2 separate regions of the Homo sapiens genome follow, and region 2 is linked to region 1. A link means that fine-mapping ties the variant in region 1 to the expression of a gene that starts in the linked region. Tissue or cell type: whole blood. Region 1 holds a variant in brackets; the other region holds the start of a gene. All regions are shown on one strand. Distances are between the middles of the regions.

The links. PIP is the estimated chance that this variant, and not a neighbour inherited with it, causes the effect.
Region 2: ASB3 starts here. The variant in region 1 is fine-mapped to the expression of ASB3 in whole blood (INTERVAL, PIP 0.94).

What each region holds. Positions count from the first base shown.
Region 1 is chr2:53,656,790-53,659,553 of GRCh38, forward strand. No RefSeq gene overlaps it. Among named protein-coding and RNA genes, the nearest start is that of CHAC2, 110 kb to the right of the region's middle. The variant G/C (reference allele first, on the strand shown) is at 1,143.
Region 2 is chr2:53,785,282-53,787,913 of GRCh38, forward strand. ASB3 (ankyrin repeat and SOCS box containing 3) reads right to left here and starts at 1,672. Exons shown (of 10, transcript NM_016115.5): 1 at 1,540-1,672. All of the region lies in intron 1 of GPR75-ASB3 (GPR75-ASB3 readthrough), which reads right to left. It overlaps ERLEC1 (endoplasmic reticulum lectin 1), which reads left to right and starts at 1,763. Exons shown (of 14, transcript NM_015701.5): 1 at 1,763-2,091. The coding sequence starts at 1,930. RefSeq lists enhancers at 1,162-1,820, 1,336-1,755.

The DNA.
Region 1 (2,764 bases):
ATGCAGTTTGTCGAACAAAACATCGTTATGTGATGCAGGACTGTATTTCTTAGCTCTGTCCACTAAGTGATTAATGATCAAACCAGTAGAAATGAGCTCCCCAATGCATGTCATGTGTATTACAGTCCATATAATAACATTTCTGAAAAAGCAAACAAAATTCTTTGCAAAAATAGGTCTGATTCCAGGTCTGAGGAGGGAAATGTACAACATAAACCTGAACTATCTTATTACCAGAACGCAAGAAAGCTAACAAAGAATACTTAAACACTAATTAAAGATAGGACAATCAATATCAATAAGAGTAATTAACTGCAATAGATTAGAAAACATCAAAAATCTATGATTATATTAATGCTGGTTGTGAAGAAAAAAACACTTATATACTGTTGGTGGGAGTGTAAATTAGTTCAACCATTGTGGAAGACAGTGTGGCGATTCCTTACAGATCTAAAGACAGAAATACCATTCGACCCAGCAATCTCATCACTGGGTATATACCCAAAGGAATATAAATCATTCTAGTATAAAGACACATGCACACATATGTTCATTGCAGCATTATTCACAATAGCAATGACATGGAACCAACCTAAATGCCCATCAATGATGACTGGATGGAGAAAATGTGGAATATATACACCGTGCAATACTATGCAGCCATAAAAAGAATGAGATCATGTCCTTTGCAGGGACACAGATGAAGCTGGAGGCCATTACCCTTAGCAAACTAATGCAGGAATAGAAAACCCAATAGCACATTTTCTCACTTGTAAGTGGAAACTAAATGATGAGAACACATGGACACATTGAGGGGAACAGCACACACCGTGGCCTATTGGAGGAAGGAGGGTGGGAGAAGGGAGAGGATCAGGAAAAGTAACTAATGGGTACTAGACTTAATACCTGGGTGGATGAAATAATCTGCATAACAAACTCCCATGACACAAGTTTACCTATGTAACAAACCTGCGCATGTACCCCTGAACTTAAAAGTTAACAAAAAGCCTATCGACCATCTTTAAAGGATATTAGAGAACTAATTCATTATTCTGAAAACTGGCAAATAAAGGAAAATAACTATTTTTTCTATACAAACCAGATCTCAGAGTAACCAAATTATCAAGGGAAATTCTTCTGTT[G/C]AAATTATCACAGCTAGTATGTAAAGAAAACTATAACGAATTAATAGATCCAGCTAGTGATCACCAATTGCTGCTAATATCACTAGGAGAGATGAAGTAACCAACATCTATGAAACAGTATGCAAGACAGAAAGTGTATGAGTATTGAATCTGAATCCGAGGAAGCCTCTACATCTAGGACTGGTTTCATAGGTGTAATCTATTCAGTTTCACAGGGCTCTGAGCTCAGAAGGGTCCCATTTTATGTTCTGCTGCCCTGTTTGGACCAGCCAAGGTGGCTCACACCTGCAATCCCAGTACTTTGGGAGGCCAAGGTGGGAGGATCACTTGAGGCCAGGAGTTTGAGACCATCCTGAGCAACATAGCGAGACCCTGTATCTACAAAAAATACAAAAATCAGCCAGGCATGCTGGTGCATGCCTGTAGTCCTAGCTACTTGGGAGGCTGAGGCAGGAGGATCCCTTGAGCCCAAGAGCTCATGAGTGCAGTGAGCTATGATTATACCCCTGCACTCCAGCCTGAGTGACAGAACAAGACCCTGTGTGAAAGAAAAAGAATTAGTTCGTTTTTACACTGCTATAAAGAACTACCTGAGACTGGGTAATTTATAAAGAAAAGAGGTTTAATTGACTCACAGTTCCACATGGCTGGGGAGGCCTCAGGAAAGTTACAATCATGGTGGAAGGCAAGGAGAGGCAAGCATCTTCTTCACAAGGTGGCAGGAGAGAGCGAGCACGAGTGGGGAAGTCCCACATTTATTTAAACCATCAGAGCTTGCAAGAACTTATGAGAACAGCATGGGGAATATCTGCTCCCACGATCCAATCACCTTCCACCAGGTCCCTCCCACAACATGTGGGGATTACAATTTGAGATGAAATTTGAGTGGGGATACAGAGCCAAACCAATGGAAGGAGGGAGAGAGGAAGAAAGGAAGGGAGGGAGGGAGTGAGGAGGGAGGGGGGGGAGTGAGGGAAGGGGGGAGTGAGGGAGGGAGGGAGTGAGGGGAGGGCAAGAAAGAAAGGAAGGGAGAGAGAAAGAGCAAGAAAGAAAAAAAAAGGAAAGAGAAGAAGAGGGGAAGGGAGGGGAGGAAGGGAAATTTGAACAACAGGTCCAACATTTTCATTTTGCACTGGGCCCAAAGTATGTTGCATTCATGTCTACATCTGACTACTAATTTACAGGAAGTAAGTGTTGTAGTTTAAAGAGCTGTCCACAAATTCTTTGATACTCCTTCCTGCCAAAAGCAAAGCCTAGTTCCTCTCTCCTTAAGTATGGGCTGTACTTTGTGATTTGCTTGAAATGAATTGAACAGATTAGAAATGATGGTGTGTGACTTCCAAGAATAGATTATAAGACACTGTGGCATCCACCTTGCTCTAAGGTCACTTGCACTGGAGTAAGCGAGCTGACATGAGAGGAGCCTCAAGCAGTTGTATGGAGAGGTGCATGTGGTGAGGGACCAAGGCCTCCAGCCAACAGCCATGTGAGTGAGCCATCTTGGAGTGGCTCCTTCTGCCCTGATCAAGCTTTTAGATCACTGCAGCCCCAGCTTACAGTTTGAATGCAACCTCATGACAGACCCTGAGTGATAACCACTCGGCCAAGCCACTTTTGAATTT
Region 2 (2,632 bases), 130 kb after region 1:
TACTTGAACATCAGCTCTATTGAACACAGATTCAATCACTATAGCCCTAAATGCTAAAACAGGACCTCACAGACAGTTTTCATTTTTATTCCGTCAAATACATCTCTTTTCCTTCATGACTTAAGACTAGTGCTTAGCACAGAATAAATGCTAAAAAAAAAAAAAATTGACTATTACTACTATAATAGTTTGCAATTATTTGTTTGTACAATCTCCCTGCCTAGACTGTGTGACCAAAGACAGAAACCCATTTATTTGGCATTTTACCAAGCCCAGGGGGGCCAGGCACAGTGGCTCAGGCCTGTAATCCCAGCACTTTGGAAGGCCGAGGAGGGCGGATCACCCGAGGTCAGGAGTTCGAGACCAGCCTGGCCAACGTGGTGAAACCCTGCCTCTACTAAAAATACAAAAATTAGGGTGTAGCGGCGCGCGCCTGTAATCCCAACTACTCGGAAGGCTGAGAAAAAGGAGAATCCCTTGAACTCCAGAGGCGGAGGTTGCAGTGAGCCAAGATTATGCCTCTGCACTCCAGCCTGGGTGACAGAGCGAGACTTTGTCTCAAAACAAACAACAACAACAAAAATCCCAGGAGTCTGGATCACATTAAGCATTAATAAGAAGTGCTGAATATAATTAGCGAATAACAATTCTGAAGAAAGTTATCTTCTTTGATACTATGGATTCCTGATGTTAAAAAAAAATTTTTAAGATAGAATATGGGACTGTCCTTCCTGCTTTTTGATTTGGTTCAAATCTGAGGAAGTGGGGGCGACCAGTCTTTAACAGATCTAGCAAGACTGTCGAGCTTTAGGGAATGGTAATTTCTCTAAAGCCAACACTCTATGTCCATTATATTGGAGATCAAAACAGACAATGGCATTTTTTCTAAAGAGGGGGAGGGAAAAACAAAACTTTTTGTCTAATTTGGGGATGCAGTCAGACGTGACTTAGTTCATAAACACACACATTCATCTGGCGCTAAACCTCACATAAGGAACCTTACCAGCTTCCTTGATAAAACAACACCCCAACACTTCAATCTAGAGATGGAGGGTAAAAATGTAGGGTTGTGATGTCTAGCTGCCCATTCCACGAGAGTCGCCCACCACGCCAAATTCGGAGGCTTGCGGTATTCACCTACGGGGAGATGGCGGGCTACCTCACCCCAGGTTTCCCCTAACACAGAGTTGCAGTCGCTGAACAAACTGCCCTGCGTTAGTCAGAAGCTGTTAAGTAACGAGATGGCCACGGTCCACAGCAGAAGAGATGGAGATAAGCCTCAAGCGGGAAAAATGAAGTGTACAAATGCCAAATGCGGAGAAAAAGAAGAAAAGCTGCAAGAAGGCAGGTCAGTCAGGAACACCGCCATTTCTCACATCTCATCGCTACTTCGAATTTTCTCATCTAAGGACCCGCACCCGCACGGTTCACACTGTCTTCTTCCCGCTATCACTCCGTGTGGGTCAAACCTCTGCCTGCCCACTGGAGAGCAGCGGGAATGGCTTCAGGAAGCGGCTGCCGCCTCCGAGACTCACCGACCTGCCGTGCTGCCACTTCTACACCGAAATGGCTGGTCCGAGGCCGCGTCTCCAGAGCTGCGTCCCAGAAGCCCCCGCTTTCGATCCCCACCGCGATGCTGCAGCCGTCCGAAAACGAGAGACGCGCAGGCGACGTCCCGGCCCCCGTAGGCGGACGGCTCCGCGACCCCCGGATGTTGATATGTCGTCTGCCCCGGAAACGGTGACAGGAGGCTCAAGGGGGCGGAGGCGGCGTTGCCGGGCTCTCCGGAAGGAGACGTGGCGGCGGTTGGGCCGGTGATACCCGGGCGCTTTATAGTCCCGCCGCCTCCTCCTCCACCTCCTCCTCCTCCTCCTCTCCTCCTGGAGCAGAGGAGGTTGTGGCGGTGGCTGGAGAAAGCGGCGGCGGAGGATGGAGGAAGGAGGCGGCGGCGTACGGAGTCTGGTCCCGGGCGGGCCGGTGTTACTGGTCCTCTGCGGCCTCCTGGAGGCGTCCGGCGGCGGCCGAGCCCTTCCTCAACTCAGCGATGACATCCCTTTCCGAGTCAACTGGCCCGGCACCGAGTTCTCTCTGGTCAGTGCCCTCACTAACCCCGCAGCCACCCCTCCTCCTGACACTAAGGGTTCGGCCTCTTCCCTCGGTTTTCTTTGCTTTTTCTCCCCAAGACCTTCTCTGCAGACTCTTACCTTCCCCAAGCCAAAGCTGCTTTTATGCAGCGTTCATTCATTCGTTCGTTCTCACGTTATGTGGATGCGTCCCCCTTGCTGAGCATTAGGGATCCAGCAATCACCTGCTCTCCACCTTTTCAATTCTGTCGCACTAGACCTTGCTTCCCAACATTCCCACCCTGCAGAAGCAGCTTTCGTAGAATAACGTCAGGTGCACTTACTCATCTTCCTTTCGGAAAATTAACTGTGGCTCTTACTTCACCAGCAGACTTCTTTCCTTCAGTATTACATGTCACCCTGCCCACACCACAGTACTTCAGACTCGAGTTCCCTCTCTCGTATTCGTTCTCCCTCAGTTGTATACACACACGGACATACGCAAACGCACAGCTCCAAGGGAACTTTTTCCTTTCCTAGTTGTTTCTGAGAGGGCTATTTGGCCTGTG